Homo sapiens: one gene and its partner. The gene in region 1 interacts genetically with each later gene. Each region holds a gene or a part of one and is shown on either strand. Other genes may lie near its edges. The genes, in order: GRAP2 and MAP4K1.

Region 1 (11,760 bases):
CTTTTTCCTCCTTCACTCATTCTTCTTACTAGTCCCAGAGGGATCTTTCCAGACAAATCAGATCATATCATTTCCTTGCTCAAAAGCATTCAGGGGTTTCCAATTACCAATTGATTGAGACTGAAAACATCTGGCCCCAAACCACTGTCCAGTGTCATTATGCACATGTACACATGTGTGCACACACCCACACAGAGACATCTTTGTAGATGTAACGCCCCCAGGTTGCACTGCAATGTATACACCGCCCTTTCTCAGCCTCTCCCCTATATACTCTGATTGCCCCTCTCCTACACACACATACTTGACCTCCTCTACCATGGAAACCTCGCTGGTCCTCTCCACTCCCTACCATCCCAGGGAAACAAATCACTCCCTCTTCAGCTCCTCCCCAACATTTCACATAAACTTCACTCATTTCCAGGCACTTATGACTTTGCCTCACATGGCAGCTATTTATAGGCAGGCCATGACCCTGTGGTCTCATGCACCCTCTATTTCTACCTCTCATTGCTGCCTTTGCCCCGTGGGATCCTAATTGCTCGTTTATGTGTTGTCTACTCCACTAGCAAAAGCTGTGCAAGGGCAGGGGCTGTTTCTGCCTCAATGTCTAGAAGAGCTGTGCCTAGAACTCCCTGACACTTGACGAATGAATGAACTTTCAATTCCTCTCCATTCCCTGAGAGCAATGTCATGCACGTGTGCACACAATGCCAGGTTCGTCTTTGTGTCTTCACAGCATCTAACACAAGTCATGGCCCAAAATAGATGCCCAGTACATATTTCTTGAATTGCTAAATTGCATTTCTTCCTGTTCATTTAGAATTCCATTGGAAAGCCAACCCCCTCCCTCTTTTCAAATTCTGTCCATTGCAGGTAAAGAGCAAAATGGGGAGGGCTTGTTGACTGAGCCCCACAGAATGTCTACAGGATGGTGATTGGTTCCCATGGCTGGGACTCCCCACATGTGATTGCAATGTCTGCCCCCCACCTTCCTCAATGGGTAACACACCCAGGATCCTCACAAATACTTTCAAAGCCAGCTCCTGACTACCCCAGCAATTCGCTTCTGGGATTCTCTGACTTGTTTGGCCTTTTGTGCTAAAGACTAAACAGAGGTTTTCATTAGAAAGGTACAAAAAAGTCTGAGCAGCCACCCACCCTCAACAGACCATCAGTTTCCTGGGGCAGAGGCCCCAGCTTATTTATCTCCATATTTCATGCACCTAAGTGCAATCAGCAGGTGCTCACTAGATGGTGATCTACACGGCATGTAGATCAAGATGGTGGACAGGAAAACGCTGCCAAATGACTTGATCCTGCTTCTCCTATGACGGAAACATTTGGAAACTCAGGAATCAGATTTTTTTCCTATTCATGCCACAAACCACCATACCTGCAGCTACACACAGCACCAGCCTCACATTTGAATTTGCCATTAAATTTGCCAGTAGCTTTGAAAAATATCTCTTGACCCAGTCCATTTCTGTCTCCTTCTGTAATGCAGCTAATGCGACCTCATTTCTTCCTGCTAAAATAGCAACCTAAAAGCACTAAGAGTTAATTCCACATAATTCATTTCTTCAATACTTCAGATTTTTGCTATGTTTCTAAAAGCTACAATTTCATCCAATTTAAAAATTCTTCCAGCCGTAATTTGGCCCTTCTCTTCCCACGTCTAACTTATTCACAGGCCATGTAACCCAAAAAATCATCTCTTAGGGAACATTATAAGAATTAAGAAACAGTCAAGAGTAAAACTTCAAGTGTTCAGGCTGAACGCCTTGCTCAGGTTTACACGATGGGTACACGAGATAGGGGGAACCGAACAGATGGAGAGATGAGAAGAACAGGAAGTGTGGGGCCCTGGGCCCACAACGGCAGGAGGAAACCATCTCCCCTCCCCTCAAATACTTTTCTTTGCAGAAAATGAGAATTTTTTTTAAAAAAAAACCTCACCTTCTATACATGGTAAAGAGCCTGCAAATTCACCTCTCTAGAAACACAGTGTTAGGCAGACCAAGCACCAGGTGGCGGAGAGAAATGGCTGGCATTGTGGGATAATCTTTCAGTTTCTAGAGGAGGTCTGAGGCATGATAACTAAAATTACAGAGCTGCTTTCAGGTCAGAAAATGAAGTACAAAGTGTGTGGTTTTTTTTTTTTTTTTTTTCTTTTTGAGACAGAGTCTTGCTCTGTTGCCCAGGCTGGAGTGCAATGGCGCAATCTCGGCTCACTGCAACCTCCGCCTCCTGGGTTCAAGCAATTCTCGTGGCTCAGCCTCCCAAGTAGCTGAGATTACAGGCATGCACCACCATGCCTGGCTAATTTTTGTCTTTATGGTAGAGATCAGGTTTTGCCATGTTGGCCAGGCTGGTCTCAAACTCCTGACCTTAGGTGATCCACCCGCCTCAGCCTCCCAAAGTGCTGGGATTATAAGCGTGAGCCATGGCACCCGGCCTCAACGTGTGGTTCTTACGGTGACAAGGTAGTTTCCAAATGGCCTCTTTTACCCCTTTCTGTGTGACATTTGCTACCCTGGCCAAACACCACATTCCCATGTGACGGGAGAAAGGAATTCCAATGCCATGAATTCAGAAGCGATGGATGGAGTGCAGTGTGCTCTTGTGTTTTTACGTGGCTACGAGGCGCTGCTGCTGGGTTTCCTAGTTCTTTTGACCTAGATTTTCTGCTTCCTCCCTTGCCCCCTCAGCACACACATACCCACATGTCCTTAGTGACACCAGCAGTCACATTTGATGTTAGAAACTATAAAGTTTTCTGTTCTCAGCAATCTCAAACTCAAATATGGGACACACTTTTATTCCTTCAGAATAAATGACTAAATTCAAAACATACACACATAATGCTTTAAAGAACGTATAAACCCTTCCATGTCCTATTCAGAGCTGGAGGCCTCCCTCATAAGAATACCACATTTGATGGAATTGTATTTTTTGAAAAGAGTCTACACTTTCTGAAGGACTTTCAGGTACCAGGGCTCATTTGATCCTCACATCAGCTCTGTGAGGTGCTAGGTGGCTATTATTATCTCCATTTTTCAAATGGCTGATTGACTTGGCCAAGATCACATATCTAGTGATGGAGCCAAGCTAGAAACCAGGTCTTCTCGTTCCCAACTCACAACACTGTCCCCTTCCTTCCACCTTGGAGTGATGTTAGAAATAGGTCATCATCTCCACTCAAGCACTTAGTTCTTTCCATTATCTTCCCATCTTCTTTTCTGGGAGAAAGAAGCCCAAGGGCCCTGTGACTTCAACTCCACCCACTTTCTGATGACTCTGAAACCCCAAGCCCCAACCTTAGCCTCTCTCCTGGGTCCAGACTGACATATCCAGCTGCTCCCTGAGCTTTTCTTCTTAGTTGAAGAATTCAACTCACAGTCACCCGCATGCAATCTGAAGCCCATGAGCCCTTTCTCAGCCCTGCCTCCTCTCATGTATCTTCTATTTCTGTAAAGCCGTCACCACCTACTCAGTCTCCCAAGCCAGAAATCCAGTGGCATCCCAGAGTCCTCCTCTCCCTTAGCTTCCAAGATTGGTCAAGAAATCCTGCCTGTTTGCTTCCTGAATTTCTCTAAAATATATCCTCACCTCCTCTTAGCCTAGGCCCTATCATCTCTTGACTGGAGGCCTGCGCTCATCTTCCTGCAGTTTTTCTGCCGACTTTAGCCTTGCAATCTATCTTCACATTCTGATCTCTGATACAGAGCTCTGTCGCTCTCTCGCTCTCTCTTAATTAGAGACAGAGTCTCTCTCTGTTGTCCAGGCTGTAGTACAGTGGTACAATCAGAGCTCACTACAGCCTTTAACTCCTGGGCTCACACCCTCCTCCCGCTTCAGCCTCCTGAGTAGCTGGGACTACAGGTGCGCTTCCACCACGCCTTGCTAAGTTTTATTTTTATTTTCATAGAGACAAGGTCTCGCTTTGTTGCCCAGGCTGGTCTCAAACTCCTGGGCTCAAGCGATCGTCCACTTGGGCCTCCCAAAGTGCTGGGATTACAGGCATGAGCCATCGCACCCAGCCAGAGCTCTTTCTGAACTCTAATTCTTACTGTTACTTCCCTGCTCAAAATCCTTTAAGGGCTCCCCCTACATTTCAAGATATTCACAGTCTACATTCCAGCCACCTGGAGGCATTTCATTCCCAGAACACACCACACCTCCTCAGAGCTGAAGGAGGAAGTCCATTGCCATCTGACTTGGCCTCAGTAACTCCTTTCGTTGCCAAGGCAAGTGGTCTCTCCTCTACATATGGATGCCTTTTCTATCTATTTCTGCTTTCTTCTTTATCATCACACTTCTATCAGTTAAGATATTTTCAGGAGCAAGAAACATAAACTAAAAATGGCTTAAACAATAACAAAGACTTGTAATTTCTCAAAGTCCAGAAGTAGGAAGGCTCCTGGGTATCATCTAATTCAGCGGTTCAGTGACATTATCAGAGTTCTTTCCATCTTTTGCTCTGCTATCCTTATTTAGAATTATTGTTCTAGTCTATATCAAAGACTTAAAAAAAATTTTTTTTTTGAGAGAGGCTTGCTCTGTTGCCCAGGCTGGAGTCCAGTGGCAAGATCACGGTTCACTGCAACCTTGCCTCCTGGGTTCAAGCAATTCTCCTGCCTCAGCCTCCCGAGTAGCTGGGATTACAGGCATGTGCCACCAGGCCCGGCTCCTTTTTGTATTTTTAGTAGAGATGGCATTTCACCATGATGGACAGGCTGGTCTCGAACTCCTGGCCTCAAGTGATCTATGTGCCTTGGCCTCTCAAAGTGCTGGGATTACAGGCGCGAGCCACCACACCTGGCCTCAGACTTTCAAAACATTCTCAGTGGCGGTGTCAAATATTTTGTCTTTTAATGGTGAATCTCATTTTTTGAGAAACCAGAAGCCACATACAGTCAAGTCTGGTGAGTAATATGAGTAACTGAGGTAGACAATAACATTTGGGGTCACAGTCAAAGTCAGGCCACAGAGTAACAAGACAGAACTTTTGGTTTTGTTTGGGATCTGGCTTTAAAAGCAAGTTTAGAAAAGGCATCCCAAGTATCTTGGGTTCCAGCCAAATATCTGTGAAATACACAGCATGTGAACACAAAGAGTTACTGTTTCCAAAGCTGGCCCCACTGGGATGTTTAAGTTTTAATCTGCCTGTTTAAAAAACAATAACAAATTGAATTTTTGAAAAGTTTCCTGGGCCTGGTGGCTCACGCCTGTAATCCCAGCACTTTGGGAGGCCAAGGCAGGTGGATCACTAGGTCAAAGGATCAAGACAGTCCCGGCCAATATGGTAAAACCCCGTCTCTCCTAAAAATATGAAAAATTAGCCAGGTGTAGTGGCGCATGCCTGTAATCCCAGCTACTCAGGAGGCTGAGGCAGGGGGATCGCTTGAACCCAGGAGGTGGAGGTTGCAGTGAGCTGAGATCCCGCCACTGCACTCCAGCCTGGCGACAGAGCAAGACTCTGTCTCAAAAAAACGAAAAACAACAACAAAAAAAAGAGAAAAGTTTCCTGGTTACCTGGAAGAGAAAAAAAAAAATACACCGTGGAGTAACCATTCTTCCTTCTCACCATCTGCTGAGATGAGGAACTTAAGGTGCTAACTGGGACAAATGAATTTCCAAAATAGAAAAAGGGATTCAGGGAAGTCCTTGAGTGCTGAATTTGGGAGGCCAAGCCACAGTGGGGTGACATGAGTGGACGGCACAAGTGGACAGAAATAACCTGGGGTCAGGAGAAGCTGACTCCAAAGGTAAACCCACGGCTCCTCCACAGGCCTGGGGTAAATCCTAGAACAGCTGTTGAGTTCTTTCAACTTATTAACATATTTTCCTCTAAGTCCAAAAGGGCCTTCTTTGCCTGGCAGCCCCTTTCTCTTGTTTTTTTGGTGTCCTCCCTCCAATGTCTTTGTCTTTCCTTTTCTTCCATGTAGATTTTAAGTAACCAAGAGGAGTGGTTTAAGGCGGAGCTTGGGAGCCAGGAAGGATATGTGCCCAAGAATTTCATAGACATCCAGTTTCCCAAGTAAGTATCTGCAGCCTGCTGAGATGGGCCTAGCCACACACACTCCTCTTACATTTCCAGCAGTCACTACAGTTATCCATGGGAACCCAAGACATTGTCAAAAATGGCTGCCTCTGGAGCTCTCTCCGGAGAGCCTCCAGAGCATGCAGCTGAAGGCCAGGGCAGGAGGGAGACTTTGCATTTCATTTCATTCCCTTTTGATGTTTACACCATGTGCATGTATTGCTATTTTAAGTTGTTCTTAACTTTTTTTTTTTTTTTTTGGGAGTTGGGGTCTCCCTCTGTCACCCAGGCTGGAGTGCGGTGACTCCATCACCACTCACTGCAGCCTAAAACTCCTGGGCTCAAGCCATCCTCTCACCTCAGCCTCCCAAGTAGCTGGGATTACAGGCACATGCCACCACGCCAGGCTAGTTTTTGTATTTTTAGTAGAGACAGGGTTTTACCATGTTGGCCAGGCTGGTCCCAAACTCCTGACCTCAAGTGATCTGCCGCCTCAGCCTCCCAAAGTGCTGGGATTACAGGCGTGAACCACCATGCCTGGCCTATTTTAAGTTTTGGGTTTTTTTGGGTTTTTTTATTCATGTGTTTATTTGTTTTGAGACAGAACCTTGCTCTGTTGCCCAGGCTGGAGTGCAGTGGCATGATCTCGGCTCATTGCAATTCTCCTGCCTCAGCCTCCCTAGTAGCTGGGATTACAGGTGCATGCCACCACACCCAGCTAACTTTTGTATTTTTAGTAGAGATGGGGTTTCACCATGATGGACAGGCTGGTCTCAAACTCTTGACCTCAGGTGATCCACCCGCCTCGGCCTCCCAAAGTGCTGGGATTACAGGTGTGAGCCACTGCACCCGGCCTATTTTAAGTTTTTATAAAATGAGTTTGTAAACTCAAATTATCTATAGTGATTTCAATCACGGCGTTCCCCAGAATTCCAAAGGGGACGCTATTGGCCACCCCACTTCGGGAGCTGCTCTCCTAAGCGCTTCTCTGTGACCTCCTAATCCTAACCATCCTCACCAGGCTCTCACCCTTCACTCAGTGGGTGGACAGACACTCCCTGCCTTCAGTAAAGCATGCTCACCCCAATGAGAGAAGTCAGCGGGGGGAAGGGGAAATTCTCTTCCTAAAGAGGAAATGAAAAATTGAGATTGGGCTTCGTTTGTCTCAAGAATTGACCACAAGGGTTAGATAGAAATCTAATCTTGCCTCAGAACCAGGGTCTAGCTCAAAGAGCAAAAGCTTGTTAGAAAACCACAGTAGTATTGGTGACTCCAGCAAGGTGCAAGAGCACCAGTCTTGGTAAACCTGAACTGACCACCAAACCAAGAGAATGACCACTGACCTTGACGGAACCCTTGATGCTGCCCAGGAATCTGCTAGGTGACCTCTGCATACCCCACGTGCTCCTCAAACCTTCAGCCCCTCCGTGCATCACTCTTAGCCCGTGACCTTGATTCCAGGTTCTCTGGAACAATGAAAGCCACCAGAAGTGAAGCTCCCAGACCCCCCTCCCCCACCGCATCCACCTGCCTCCTGCAAGTGTGCTCAAACAGTCGGCCTTTCCTGCAGCTGGCTGGAAGGAACTGTCACTGCTTCTAGCAGAAATTCTCCTCTCTCTCTCTTCCACGTCAACCTCCTTTCCCTCTCTGCTGGATCATTCCTGTCAGCAAACACACACGCTGCAATTTCTCCCAACTTACCAAAACACAAACAAACAAAACCAAACCCAGAGGCCAGGTGGGTTTTGTTGTGGCTGATGCCTGTAATCCCAGTCCTTTGAGAGGCTGAGGGAGGAGGATCACTTGTGGCTAGGAGTTTGAGACCAGCCTGGGCAACATAGCGAGCCCCATCTCTACAAAAAATTTTTAAAAATTAGCTGGTCGTGGTGGCATGCGCCTATAGTCCCAGCTGCTTGGGAGGCTGAGGCAGGAGGATCGCTTGAGCCTGGGAGTTCAAGGCTGTGGTGGACCATGATTATATCACTGCACTCCAGCCTGGGCAGCAGAGAGAGACTCTGTTTCAAAGAAAAAAAAAATTTAAATAAATAAATAAATCAAGAAAATTCTTAATCCCAAATCCCCTTCCACTTGCCACTCCATCTCTTCAAAAGGAGTGTGTGCATTTGCTACTTCCAACTCCTCATCTCCCGACCCTTCCCACCAGGCTCCCCATGGGCTGTAGCTCCCAGGGGTCATCTCAGCATGACCTGCCCTGGGGATCCCCCCTCCCACTGGAACACCTCTTTCATTTTGGCTCCAGGACGTCCTTCCTCCGGTTGTCCTCCCACTGCCCTGGCTTCTCCTCCTCAGTCTCTTGTGTTGGTTCCTCCCACTCCCCAGTCCCCTATAGGTTTAGAATGTCTCCTTTTCAGTGAGGTCTTTCTCATCACCATACCTTACATTAATCTCCCACCCACAGCGCCCCATCTCTCCTCTCAGTTTTCATGTTCTCCACAGCACTTACCATCATCTGGCACGCTTCAGATCTTAATTATTTTGTTCTTTTGTGTGTGTCCCCCTCGACTAGAATGTAAGCTCCCTGAGGGCAGGGGTGTGTGTCTGTTCTGCCCACTACTGTGTCCCCAGTGCCCAGGAGGGGCCCAGCACAGTACTAGATGTTCAGTAAAGCTGTTGAATGAATGAATGAATGAATGAACGAACGAATATGTATTATTGAAACCATGACCACTCATGTCTAATATGCAATGTGTGGTGATTTTTACAAATCTTTAAAGAAGCCCCCTATCAGATTGCAGTCAGAGGACAAATGTGTATTTCCTAAATCCCCTTCACTTCTGAAATGTTTCCTTTGCGATATGGCTGCTGTGGTGCATACTCCATTCCTCTTCCCATCCCCATTACATTTCCCACACGTGGCAGTGGTGTGTGTGGTGGCCTCTTGTTTAGCCCTGTAGAATTGTGTGGCAAATACTCAGGCAGAATCTCCAGGCCACCAGAAACTGCTGCTTTCAGCCCTCTCAGAGCACAGCCAAACTTCCCCCTCAGTCCCAGTGGGGGACTCAGTCTCCAGTAAGTACATCCTTCCTGCTACCTATGTCTCAGTTTCCCAAATTCTAGAAAGCACAGAGAATTGCTCACAAAGGAATCCAAAGCCAAGGCCTGACGGGCTTTTATCTTAAAGGAACATGCGTATGAGCCTTCTGGTGACAGCAATTAGAGCAGCCACCTTGAAGCAATGTGACACAGTCCCACCTTTGGCCGCTGAGTGATTGCAGACACTCATTTTGCTTGTCTGTGGTGGAGAGAGGTCTCTGGCCTCCTGCTTTGAGGCTGCAGCCACAGCTTGCCTGGCCCTGTGTAAGTGTTTGACCTATTTCATACATGCCACGCTGTATGCAGCTGTACCTCCAGGGGCTGCCACCCTGACCATTCTGCTAAAAGAGTAATTTCTCCTGTTTCTTCTTTTCCACAGTAAAGATTATTTCCCAGCCTGGATTTTTGGGGCAGGCCCAGGATCTGGTTGTATAGACGCCGCTCTCTGGCGGCTGCCAGCCTCGCTGATTTCCAAGCATGTACACTGGACTCCCTAGGAACACTGCAGCCTCTGCTAGGCACACTGAGCAAAGCCCCCTTGTGCTCCATGCCAGCCTAGGTAACGTGACGCCCTGGGCTGTAACTTTCCTTTAATACCCAGGGAGGAACCTCTAGGCCACTGAGACCTCAGGGCAGGCATGAGCACCCCAGGCCCTGCTCAGCCGGCTGCACCTGGTTGGCTCCAGTGCCTGAAGCCTTCCCTTCCCTCCCCAGTGCATCCTCTGTCCTCGCAGCTCTGGTCTATCTCTTCCGCAGCTGCCGGCAGGCGGCTGCTTCCTGCAGTGAGTCACTCCCACACTGCCCCATTTTGGTGCAGCGACACATTTCCATGATTCGTTTCCCAGGCTGGAGAGAGACTTCTCCTGGAGAGAAGGAACAAAGAGGGTGAATCAAGGGGAATGCTCCCTCGCCTTTCCTGAAAGCTGCCTGGAGCACTGGTTTGATTTCAAACAGCACCTGGTCTCTCTCTGCTCCCTACTGTACAGAGTCCCCAGCCTCTTTCCCTCTGGGTCACCTCTTCTCCACGTCTCCCTCTTGTCACTCCTGTGTCTCATCCTGATCCTTTTGTTTGATCTCGCCCCCACAGATGGTTTCACGAAGGCCTCTCTCGACACCAGGCAGAGAACTTACTCATGGGCAAGGAGGTTGGCTTCTTCATCATCCGGGCCAGCCAGAGCTCCCCAGGGGACTTCTCCATCTCTGTCAGGTACTGACCATTCCTGACACTGCCTTGGCCCTTCTCGGCCTGTTAACCTCACAGAATGCTGAAGCCATGAAGGGACCTCTGGAATATGACCCAATGGTCAGAAGCATGGTGGCCTAGGGGCCAAGCATGGCAGCAGCTTCACAACCTGCTGCTCCCAGTGCCTTCCCAAAACATGCACACACCACTCTTTAGAACACTGGTGTGTGTTTGAAATTATTTCTACGCCCATCTGCCTCCCCTTCTAGCCCAGGTGCTTCTGGAAGGGCAGGATTTTCCTCTACTTCATCTTTATGCCTTTAACAGTGTCTTGCATAAAAGAGAGACACTCAGTGAGTATTTGTGGAAGGAAGGAGGGATAGGAGGAGGAGAACTCCCACTTGTCCAGATCCATCTGGGGGTTTAAATCTTAACCTTTTCTTTTATGATTGATGCATATCTGAAGAAGAGTCAGAGAAAAATAGAAATCTCAAGTCACTGCTGTAGGATATACAGGGGCGGAAAAGTTGTGGCACCTTTCTTTGCCCATCAGAGGAGTCACAGCTGACACTCCTACAAGACAGGTTAACAAGAGGAGAGTGGACACATTTATTTAATCAAAGACTTGTGTGACACAGAAGCCTTCAGAAATGAAGACCCAAGACCCAGGGAAAGCCGTCTATTTTTATGCTTAGGTTTGTCAAAGGACAGACAGCCCTGTAGAAATGGGATTGGACAAAGGGGGTTTGATCTAAGGTAACAGACTGAGGTAGGAAACTGAACAAGGCCTGTCCCAAGTCTTCTTTTTTTTTTTTTTTTTTGGAGACAGCTGTTGCCCAGGCTGGAGTGCAGTGACGCAATCATTGCTCACCACAGCCTCTGTGTCCCAGGCTCAAGCCATCTTCCCACCTCAGCCTCTCAAGTAGCTGGGGATACAGGTGCACACCACCACACCTGGCTAATATTTTTTTAACTTATTTCTTTGTAGAGACTAGGTCTTACTGTGTTGCCTGGGCTGATCTCAAACTCCTGGCCTCGAGTAATCCTCCTGCCTTGGCCTCCCCCATAGTGACCCTTCTAGTCTCTCTGACCCACTGTGGGGAAGAGGAATTCTAATTTCTATGACTCACTCAGGGGGAGAAAGAGGAGCGGGAGACAGGAGGGCAGGAGAAGGCCAAAGGAAGACTTTGCTTCCAAGGCTGCTTCTGAAACCTTCCCATCTCCTTTGGTTCGAAGCACTCAGCATGCCAAGGGGTGTCGTTTTCTGAGCCCCAACAAATACATGTATAGTTGTAGGCAGCTGAACAAAAAGAAAGGCTACTTCAACACAGTACAGTACAGCAAGACCGAAAACCACAGAACAGAGGGCCAGGAGTGGGGGAGGACTGTAACAGCGAAATCTCACTAAGGTGCAGCAACCCATAGGAAGTGACTCAGTCCACGCGTAGACATTACACAGCCCCAAACTCAGAAGCCC
Region 2 (11,573 bases), on another chromosome or scaffold:
ATGGTGAGAACCCTCCTTCCTCCCCTTCCTCCCCACCCCTCCAGCTGCAGTCCCTAGATCTCTGCCTCCGAACTTGTGCTTCTCAGAACCCCCTGAGCCCCTCTGGGCCTTGCCCCTGTCCTACATAGCTTTCACACTGAATTTATGGATTGGTCCCTTAGTAACCCTCTAAGCCTTGCTCACAGTTCTTAAAACCGTCTATCTCCTTCCAGGCTCTGTGAAGCTGGTGACCCCGGAGGGGTCCCCAGTCCGGGGACTTCGCACACCTGAGATCCCCATGACCGAAGCGGTGGAGGCCGTGGGTCTGTGCAGGGACGGGAGAGCCCAGGATCAGGGGTGGAAACTCAAGTGATCCCCAAGGGTAACGGGCATTGCTTTCTCCCCAGCTATGGTTGGAGGTCAGCTTCAGGCCTTCTGGAAGCATGGAGTGCAGGTGTGGGCTCTAGGCTCGGATCAGGTAAGCCCCTCCATCCAAACTCCACATCACTGCCCCCCAGCCTCCATCATGACATTCATCAGATGGGCTCCGAGAACTCCTGAGTCAGAGTGTGAAGTCCTGGAGGGGAAACATCTTCCAAATTTCAGTTCAGATAGATCCCCTTCTTTGCCCCAGGATTTATTTTTTATTTTATTTTTATTTATTTATTTATTTAAGACGGAGTTTCACTCTTGTTGCCCAGGCTGGAGTGCAGTGGTGCGATCCCGGCTCACTGCAACCTCCACCTCCCGGGTTCACGCGATTCTCCTGCCTCGGCCTCCCAAGTAGCTGGGATTACAGGCATGCGCCACCACAGCTGGCTAATTTTTGTATTTTCAGTAGAGACGGGGTTTCACCATGTTCATCAGGCTGGATGGTCTTGAACTCTTGACCTGGGGTGATTCACCCGCCTTGGCCTCCCAAAGTGCTGGGATTACAGCTGTCAGCCACCACACCCGGCCTATTTTATAGATAGATAGATAGATAGATAGATAGATAGATAGATAAAATTTATTTATTTTTGGAGATGGATTCTTGCTCTGTCACCCAGGCTGGAGTGTAGTGGCGCGATCTCGGCTCACTGCAGCCTCTGCCTCCCAGGTTCAAAGAATTCTCCTGCCTCAGCCTCCTGAGTAGCTGAGACTACAGGTGCATGCCGCCATGCTTAGCTAATTTTTTTGTATTTTTAGTAGAGACAGGGTTTCACCATGTTGCCCAGGCTAGTCTCAAACTCCTGAGCTCAGCCAATCTGCCTTCCTTGGCCTCACAAAGTGCTAGGATTACAGGTGTGAGCCACCACTCCTGGCCATTTTTATATATTTTTTGAGACAGAGTCTCGCTCTGTCACCCAGGGCAGAGTGCAGTGGCATGATCCGAGCTCACTGCAACCTCTGCCTCCTGGGTCCAAGTGATTCTCCTGCCTCAGCCTCCCGAGTAGCTGGGATTACAGGTACACTCCATCATGCCCAGGTAATTTTTGTATTTTTAGTAGAGACGGGGTTTTGTCATGTTGGCCAGACTGGTCTCGAACTCCTGACCTCAAGTGATCTGCCCGCCTCAGCCTCCGAAAGTGCTGGGAGTACAGGCGTGAGCTACTTCACCCGGCCTGTTTGTTTTGGAGATAGGGTCTCTCTCTCTTGTCCAGGCTGAAGTGCAGTGGTGCAACCATAGCTAGCTGTAGCCTTGACTTTCTGGGCTCAAGCAATCCTCCCTCCTCAGCCTCTCAAGTGGCTTGGATTACAGGTGTGAGCCACTGCACCTGGCTGCTCTTGGATTTCTTGAGTCCCAATCTCATCCTGGGCCACTACTGTGACCTTGGGCTGGCAACGTTGCTTCTCTTTAAGCTTCTGTTCCCCAACTGTAAAATGGGGACCACTATAGAGATATATGGATAGTTAAGACAAGACTGTCTGGGTTGGAATTCAGCTGAGTGGCCTTGGGCAAATGACTTAACCTTCCTGTGCCTCACTGTCCTCATTTGGAAAATGGTGTTTATCTCACAGAATACTGTGTCAGACTTTGCCCTTACACTTTAGTATTTTTATTTATTTATTTTTGCTCACTCAGTTCCTTCCCTCTTTTTGAAATGGAGTCTCGCTCTGTTCCCCAGACTGGAGTGTTAGTGGCACAATCTTGGCTCATTGCAACCTCTGCCACCCAGGTTCAAGCGATTCTCGTGCCTCACCCTCACAAGTAGCTGGGACTACAGGCATGCGCCACCACAGCTGGCTAATTTTTGTATTTTCAGTAGAAATACAAAAATTATCTCAGCTGGAGATCTCGGCTCCAGTGGCACGCCCAGTGGCGCAATCTCAGCTCAATGCAATTTCTGCCTCCCGGGTTCAAGTGATTCTTCTGCCTCAGATCCTGAGTAGCTGGGACTATAGGCGCGCACCACCATGCCTAGCTAATTTTTGTATTTTTAGTAGAGACGAGGTTTTGCCATGTTGGCCAGGCTGGTCTCGAACTCCTGACCTCAGGTGATCCACCCACTTCGGCCTCCCAAAGTGCTGGGATTACAGGCGTGAGCCACCGTGCCCAGCTCCTTGCTGTCTTTAAGGGAGCCATGTTCGTAGTGACAGTGGAGGTATCTTCCAGGCACTGAGACACACACTTTTTTTCCCTAGCTGCTACAGGAGCTGAGAGACCCTACCCTCACTTTCCGTCTGCTTGGCTCCCCCAGGTATGTTGTGGGGTGGGGTGCAGAAGGACCTGGGAGGGGGCTTCTGATGTGAAGAGAGCATTCTGAGGTGTCCCCAGCAAGGTATCTCTAGCCTGGACAGTGTCTCACCTGGTCACCCTGCTTCCATCCCTGCTCCCTAGAGTCTGTTCTCTGCACTGCAGCCACGGGGGCGTTCTCTCTTTTTGTTTTGTTTCTCACTGTACTCAAAGGCTGGAGTGCAATGGCACGACCACGGCTCACTGCAGCCTTGACCTCCCAGGCTCAAGTGATCCACCCACCTCAGCTTCCTGAGTATCTGGAACTACCGGCATGTGCCACCATGCCCAGCAATTCTTTTATTTATTTATTTATTTATTTATTTATTGAGATGGAGTTTTGCTTTTGTTGCCCAGGCTGGAGTGCAATGGTGTGATCTTGGTTCACTGCAACCTCTGCCTCCCAGGTTCAAGCGATTCTCTTGCCTCAGCCTCCCAAGTAGCTGGGATTACAGGCATGTGCCACCACACCCGGCTAATACTATATTTTTTAGTAGAGATGGCATTTCACCATGTTGGCCAGGCTGGTCTCGAACTCCTGACCTCGGTGATCCACCTGCCTCGGCCTCCCAAAGTGCTGGGATTATAGGCATGAGCCACTGCACCTGGCCAATCCTTTTATTTTTTAATTTTAATTCTTTTATTTATAAAATTTTTTTAAAATTTATTTTTGACACAGAGTCTCGCTGTGTTGCCCAGGCTGGAGTGCAGTGGCACAATCTCAGCTCACTGCAACCTCTGCCTCCCAGGTTCAAGTGATTCTCATGCTTCAGCCTCCCAAGTAGCTGGGTTTACAGGTGTGTACCACCACATTTGGCTATTTTTTGTATTTTTAGTAGAGACGGGGTTTCGCCTTGTTAGCCAGGCTGGTCTCAAACTACTGACCTCAGGTGATCCAGCTGCCTTGGCCTCCCAAAGTTCTGGGATTACAGGAGTGAGCCACTGCACCTGGCCTTAATTTTATTTCATTTTTGAGACAAGGTCTCATTCTGTTGCGCAGGCTGAAGTGCAGTGTTACACACACAGCTCACTGCAGTCTTGACCTTCTGAGCTCAACTGATCCTCCCACCTCAGCCTCCCAAGTAGCTAGGTCCACAGGCATACACCACCACAACTGGCTAATTTTTAAAATTTTTTTGTAGAGACGGGGTCTTGCCATGTTGCCCTGGCTGTCCTTGAACTGCTGGCCTCAAGCAATCTTCCTACCTTGGCCTCCCAAAATGTTAGGATTACTGGCATGAGCCACCACACCTGGCTGCATTTTTTTTTTTTTTTTGAGACGGATTCTTGCTCTGTTGCCCAGCCTGGAATGCGGTGGCGTGATTTCAGCTCACCACAACCTCCACCCACTGGGTTCACGCGATTCTCCTGCCTCAGCCTCCCGAGTAACTGGGATTACAGGCATGTGCCACTGTGCCCGGCTAATTTTTGTATTTTTAGTAGAGACAGGCTTTCGCCATGTTGTCCAGGCTGCTCTTGAACCCCTGATCTCAGGTGATCTGCCCGCCTCGGCCTCCCAAAGTGCTGGGACTACAGGCATGAGCCACCGTGCCCAGCCCTGGCTGCATTTTTATTTTAGATTTTTATCTTATTAAAAATTTTTAACTATTAAAAATAACTATTTTAACTATTTTGACATAATTTAAAACTCACACTCCCAGAGAAGTTGCAAAAATCCCTTTTATCCAGATTAACCAGATCTTTTTTTTTTTTTTTTTTTGAGATGGAGTCTTGCTGTGTGGCCCAGGCTGGAGTGCAGTGGATCTCCACTCACTGCAACCTCTGCCTCCCGGGTTCAGGCAAGTCTCCTGTCTCAACCTCCTGAGTAGCTGGGACTACAGTTGCACACCACCACGCCCAGCTAATTTTTTTGTTTTTTTAGTAGATGTGGGCTTTCATCATGGTGGTTAGGCTGGTCTCGAACTCTTGACCTCAGGTGATCCACCCACCTCTGCCTCCCAAAGTGCTGGGATTACAGGCGTGAGCCACTGTACCTGGCCAGATGTTAATCTTTTTAACCGCATTTGCCTTATTATTCTTTTTTTTTTCTTTTCTTGAGACAGAGTTTCGCTCTTGTTGCCCAGGCTGGAGTGCAATGGCATAATCTCAGCTCACCACAACCTCCCACTCCTGGGTTCAAGCACTCCTCCTGCCTCAGCCTCCCGAGTAGCTGGGATTACAGGCATGTGCCACCATGCCCGGCCTCTTCTCTTTCTTATGCGCACACACCACACATACAAGTATATGTGTGTGTGTGTGTGTGTGTGTGTGTGTGTGTGTGATTTTTTAATGAATATTTGGGAATGAATTGCAGACGTGATGCCCATTTACCCCTAAAATACTTCAGTGTATGTTTCCTGAATCAAAGCAAGGACATAATGTTACAAACCACAGCACAGCTGTCAAAATCAAGAAAACAACACTGAAACATCACAACCTTCTAATTCATACCCCTACTCAATTTCACCAGTTGGCCAGGTGTGGTGGCTCACGCCTGTCATCCCAGCACTTTGGGAGGCTGAAGTGGGCAGATTACCTGAGGTCAGGAGTTGGAGATGGGCCTGGCCAACATGGAGAAACCCCACCTCTAGTAAAAATACAAAAATTAGCTGGGTGTGGTGGCACGTGCCTGTAATCCCAGCTGGGAGGCTGAGGCAGGAGAATCACTTGAATCGGAGAGGTGGAGGTTGCAGTGAGCCGAGATTACGCCACTGCACTCCAGCCTGGGTGACAGAGCGAGACTCTGTCTCAGAAAACAACAACAACAACAACAAAAAATTTCACCCGTTGTCCTAGTGACGCCCGTGATTATATATATATATATATATATATATATATATATATATATATATTTTTTTTTTTTTTTTTTTTTTCTGGTCCAAGATCATAGGTGGCACTTAGGAGCCATGTTTCTTTATAATTAAGCCGGAAAAAATAATTAAAACTTCTTTTGTCTTAAAGGAGCTTTGACCTTTTTAAAAATTAAAGGAAATTTGTTTTCTAAAATGTCCCTTAACTGTGTTTGAGGTTTCCACGTTCTGAATTTTGGGCAGGAATACTGCAGAAAGATGTCTTTCTCAGTGCATCATTTCAGGAAGTACACAATGCTAGTTTGTCCCATTACTGGTGATATTAACTTCGGTCATTTGGTTAAGGTAGAATCAGCCAGTTCTCTCCACTGTGAAGTTGCTTTTTTCTCCCTTTTTCTTTTTTTTTAAAGATAGATTCTCTCTCTGTCACCCTGGCTGGAGTGCAGTGACGCGATCATGGCTCACTGCAGCCTCGACCTCCTGGGTTCAATCAGTCCTCCCACCTCAACCTCCCGGGTAGCTGGGATGACAGGCGCGTACCACTACACCTGGCTTATTTTCGTATTTTTTGTACAGACAGGGTTTCGCCATGTTACTTAGCCTGGTCTGGAACTCCTGGACTCAAGAGATTCACCTGTGTAGGCTTCCCAAAGTGCTGGGCTTATAGGCAGGGGTCACCGCACCCAGCCTCTGTTTTTCTTTGTAATAAGAAGTATCCCACCGGTCGGGCGCGGTGGCTCACGCCTGTAATCCCAGCACTTTGGGAGGCCGAGGCAGGTGGATCACCTGAGGTCGGGAGTTTGAGACCAGCCTGACCAATGTGGAGAAACCCTGTCTCTACTAAAAATACAAAATTAGCCGGGCATGGTGTTGCATGCCTGTAATCCCAGCTACTCGGGAGGCTGAGGCAGGAGAAGCGCTTGAACCCGGGAGGCGGAGGTTGCAGTGAGCCGAGATCGCGCCATTGCACTCCAGCCTGGGCAACAAGAGTGAACTCTGTCTCAAAAAAAAAAAAAGAAGTATCTTTTGGGGAGATTCACTGAGACGAGGTAAATAGTCTGTAAATACGTTGTTTCTCATCAGATTTTCACCCACTAGTTTTATTGTTTTTTGTTTGTCTTTTGTTGTTGTTTTGAGTCAGAGTCTCACTCTGTCCCCCAGGCTGGAGTGCAGTGGCACGATCTCGCCTCACTGCAACCTCCTCCTCCCAGGTTCAAGCAATTCTCCTGCCTCAGCCTCCCGAGTAGCTGGGATTACAGGTTTGAGCCAACGCACCTGGCCTGCCCACTAGTTTTAGAATCAATTGATTTTTCCCTGAATCTATTATTGTTAGGTGGCTACTAACAATAAATGGTGATTTTCTGATTCTATGTTTCCTTCTGCGTGTGTTAGTTGGCATTCTACTCTAAAGAAGAGCTGTGTCTTCTCCATTCTTCTTTCTTTATACCAGCATGGTCTCATGGATTTTTATTCTGTGGGTTATAGTCTATTACTGTCATTATTTATTTATTTATTTATGAGATGGAGTCTCGCTCTGTCACCCAGGCTGGAGTGCAGTGGTGTGATCTCAGCTCACTGCAACCTCTGCCTCCCAGGTTCAATCGATCCTCCTGCCTCAGCCTCCCGAATAGCTGGGATTACAGGCGTGCACCACCATGCCTGGATAAATTTTTTTTTTTTTTTTTGAGACAGAGGCTCGCTCTGTCGCCCAGGCTGGAGTGCACTGGCGCTATCTCGGCTCACTGCAAGCTCTGGCTCCCAGGTTCACGCCATTCTCCTGCCTCAGCCTCCCGAGTAGCTGGGACTATAGTGCCTGCCACCACACCTGGCTAATTTTTTTTTGTATTTTTAGTAGAGATGGGGTTTCACCGTGTTAGCCAGGATGGACCTGGATAATTTTTGTAGTTTTAGTAGAGATGGGATTCACCATATTGGCCAGGCTGGTCTTGAACTCCTGACCTCAAGTGATCTGCCCCCCTTGGCCTCCCAAAGTGCTGGGATTACAAGCATGAGCCACCATGCCCGGCCTTGTCATTATTTATTTTGAGGCACAAATGGTCTTAAATTTAGCCAGTGGGAACCACTTTAAGTAGCCCCTGTGTCCTTTTGACATGCCAGAAGGGTCACTTTAAATCCAAATCTGATCGTGTCACTGTCTCCCTGCTTAAAATCCTCCCATGGCCTCAAGATAAAGACTCAATCCTGGCCACAGCCCACAAGGCCATGACATCTCCAGCCAAGTCCCAGCCTTTCTCCCACCTCAAATCCTTTGCACAGGCTGTTCTCCCCAGCCAGAACACTCTTCCTTGCCCTTTCACCAAGTTCCCTCCTAACCCCCCTTCAGGCTGCACCATCCATTCTCTGGGGAGTCTGGGCTGACCTCCTGGGTTAGGTTTCCCTGCCAGACATGCCATGCTTTTTTGCACTCATGTAATTCACTGATTCATGTTGATCTCCTTCTCTAGAATGCAAGCTTCCTAAGGGCAGGGACCGTGTCTGCCCATTCACTGCTATAGTTCAGCATGGGGCTGGCACAGTCTCTATTAACTACTTTGTGAATTAATGAATCAATGAACATATGAATGAATAAATGAACTGACTTATCTCTTCCTTCCACAGGCCTGTAGTGGTGGAGACACGCCCAGTGGATGATCCTACTGCTCCCAGCAACCTCTACATCCAGGAATGAGTCCCTAGGGGGGTGTCAGGAACTAGTCCTTGCACCCCCTCCCCCATAGACACACTAGTGGTCATGGCATGTCCTCATCTCCCAATAAACATGACTTTAGCCTCTGCTGTCATCTTGTTTTTCTTGGGGGAAACAATTCCTGGATGTCCACTCCTCCAAAATTTCAGCAGGCCAACACAGTGATGCTGGGGGGCGTAGCACAGATTTATTTTCCAGTACTAGGTCACCTCTCCCCCAGCTGCCTTAGGGGGAGGGGCTTGGGGACTAAGGGGCTTGCTGTGAGAATAAGGCACTTGAGGTGGGGGTGGAGGGCCAGCTGGGGGTGTGTCAGCTAAGCTGGTCCTCATACTGCTTACGGAAACAATCACCAGCTGGGAAGAAATCCCAACATCTCTCTTGGTACATCTTCCAGACATAAGACTCCTAGGATTGGGGATAGAAAGAGTTCATTGGTCACATCTTCAAACCCTTGAGACATATATATATATATATTTTTAGACAGGGTGTTGCTCTGTTGCCCAGGCTGGAGTGCAGTGGCGACAATCACAGCTCACTACAGCCTCCTGGCTCAAGCGATTCTCCACCTCAGTCTCCAGAGTAGCTGGGACTACAGGTGCACACCACCACCCCTGGCTAATTTTTTAATAGAGAAAGGGTCTCGCTGTGTTCCTAGGCTGTCTTGAACTTCTGGTCTCAAGCAATTCTCCCGCTGTGGCCTCCCGAAGTGCTAGGATTGCAGGCGTGAGCCAGGACGCCCAGCCCAAACCCATTTTTTTTGAGATGGAGTATCGCTCTGTCACCTAGGCTGGAGTACAGTGGCATGATCTTGGCTCACTGCAACTTCTGCCTCCTGGGTTCAAGCGATTCTCCCACCTCAGCTTTCCAAGTAGCTGGGATTACAGGCATGCACAACCACGCCCTGCTAATCTTTGCATTTTTAGTAGAGACTGAATTTCACCATGCTGGCCAGGCTGGTCTTGAACTCCTGACCTCAAGTAATCCACCCGCCTTGGCCTCCCAAAGTGTTGGGATTACAGGCGTGAGCCGCCGTGCCCAGCCCCCAGCCCTAACCCTTGATATTGATAGGAGCTTTTTACTGCCACCTACTGACTGGCCTTATGTTAAAGGGCTCCACGTCCTGCCCACTGTCCTCCCATTAACACCCCCTTACCTGACCCGTGTGTTCTGTCTCATCCTTGTTTATCAAATACATCAGGAAAAACCTGAGGGTGAGAGGACCACAGGAGACAAGTCAGAACCACCCTTACCTTATTTTATTTTTCATTTATAGTAGAGAGGAAGTCTTGCTATGTTGCCCAAGCTGGTCTCGAACTCCTGGCCTCAAGTAATCCTCCCCACTTGGCCTCCCAAAGTGCTGGGCTTACAGGTGTGAACCATCTTGCGGGGCCCCACCCTTACCTTCTGATTGGCTGGCAGGGAATCTGCCCACATGGACACTACACCCCCTTTCCTAACTGGCCAAAGCTAAGTACCCCACTGCTGGCTATTGGCAGCCATGCCCCCCACCCTCCTGACTGGCCAGTGTGTCTGCTCACATGTAATTGGCCAGGTTGTGCTCCTCCAGCGTGTGAGTCTCGAAGCCATGCGGTGTCGTATCAAAGTAGTCACTGCCGATTCCACAGATGAAGCACTTGGTCTGTGAGTGGCAAGAGACATCAGAGTGGAGGCCCACTTGACCCCCTGAATCCCGTAATCCCTCTGGGTCACCCCCAGACATGACCTACCTCCATATCCTCCTTCACTTGCTCTTGTTGGTCTCGGAGCTCACCAAAAGCGTCGATGATCAGACCTGGGGTGGCAGGACACAAGTCAGTGCCCGACCTCTGACCTGGTTCAGACTCCCCCCTCTCCAGCTACCTACCTCCAGGGCTTGCCCTCCATCCCCCATTTCCCTAATCTCACCCCTAATCTCGCTTCCTAAGAAGATAGTATTAGGCCTTTATTGGCCGGGTGCGGTGGCTCACGCCTGTAATCCCAGTACTTTGGGAGGCTGAGGTGGGCGGATCATCTGAGGTGAGGAGTTCAAGAGCAGCCTGGCCAACATGGTGAAACCCCCTCACTACTAACAATAAAAAAATAAAAAAAATTAGCTGGGTGTGGTAGCATGTGCCTGTAGTCCCAGCTAATCAGGAGGCTGAGGCAGAAGAATCGCTTGAACCTGGGAGGTAGAGGTTGCAGTGAGCCAAGATTGCACCACTGAACTCTGGCCCGGGCAACAGAGCGAGACTCCCTCTCAAAAAAAAAATTATACATATATATATATAGACACACACACATATATATAAATATATATAAACACATATATAAATATATATAAACACATATATATATAAATAAACATATATATATATATATATCTCAGGCCTTTATTGAGCACTCATATGAGCCAGACACCGAGCGCCTATGAACTGACTTAATCCTGATCACAACCTATGAGGTTAGTACCATTGACACCCTCGTTTTGCAGATGGAGAAACGGAGGCCCCGAGAGGTGACTTGCCCAAGGTCTCACAGTAGCGAGAGGTAGAGATGGGGTATGAATGCAGGCCGACTGGATCCTGGGCCTGCATTCTTAGCCATGGAGCTAGCCTGCCTCCGGGCCCTGAGCGCCCACTCCCAGCACTGACCCTGGATGATGGCCAACAGGATGACGATGACGAAGAAGAAGAAGGTGATGTCGAAGACCACCCTGTAGAGCTCGTATTCGTCACCCGCGGGGTCCTCGATCTCGTCCCCAATGCCTCCGCCAGCCCGGACACCCACGTACATGTGAAACAGGTAACACTGAGGGAGGGGAGCACACTGGTCACTCATTCATTCGACATTCACTGAGTACCAGCCAAGGCCCCGGGATAGGCAGGGCTGAAGACATGGTAACGACTGAGACAGCCCTGGGCCCTGCCCTCAAAGGGCTCACAGATACGGCATCAGACAGGGACCAACAGCCAGAAATGGTCAGGGCTGTGACAGGAACAGCACGGGCAGGGGGGTGAGGGCCAGGTTGGGTGTGGGGCGCAGGCAGAGGGGTCAGGGCCAGGATGGGGGGCACAGGCAGAGGGGTCAGGGCCAGGATAAGGGGGGCACAGGCAGAGGGGTCAGGGCTGGGATGGGGGGCACTGGCAGGGGAATCAGGGCCAGGATAAGGGGGGCACAGGCAGAGGGGTCAGGGCCAGGATAGGGGGGCACAGGGAGAGGGGTCAGGGCTAGCATGGGGGGGCACAGGCAGAGGGGTCAGGGCTGGAATGGGGGGTACAGGCAGAAGGGTCAGGGCCAGGTTGGGTGGGGGGCACAGGCAGAGGGGTCAGGGCCAGGATGGAGGGTACAGGCTGAGAGGTTAGGGCCAGGATAGTGGGGCACA

What was found.
Region 2: of GRAP2 (region 1) and MAP4K1, changing one enhances a phenotype caused by changing the other (phenotypic enhancement), as found in Homo sapiens cells (one study listed by BioGRID).

The regions. Positions count from the first base shown.
Region 1 is NC_000022.11:39,949,868-39,961,627, forward strand, and holds part of GRAP2 (GRB2-related adapter protein 2), read left to right. Parts: intron 1-5,951; coding exon 5,952-6,043; intron 6,044-10,187; coding exon 10,188-10,307; intron 10,308-10,529; exon of another isoform or gene 10,530-11,052; intron 11,053-11,760. UniProt on the Homo sapiens protein: Interacts with SLP-76 to regulate NF-AT activation. Binds to tyrosine-phosphorylated shc.
Region 2 is NC_000019.10:38,584,369-38,595,941, reverse strand, and holds the end of MAP4K1 (mitogen-activated protein kinase kinase kinase kinase 1), read left to right. Parts: coding exon 1-3; intron 4-212; coding exon 213-302; intron 303-386; coding exon 387-457; intron 458-2,604; coding exon 2,605-2,660; intron 2,661-6,666; coding exon of another isoform or gene 6,667-6,764; intron 6,765-8,124; coding exon 8,125-8,194; 3' UTR 8,195-8,301; downstream 8,302-11,573. Other genes in the region: RYR1 (ryanodine receptor 1), read right to left, coding at 8,522-8,617, 9,366-9,417, 9,751-9,851, 9,940-10,004, 10,843-10,999. UniProt on the Homo sapiens protein: Serine/threonine-protein kinase, which plays a role in the response to environmental stress. Appears to act upstream of the JUN N-terminal pathway.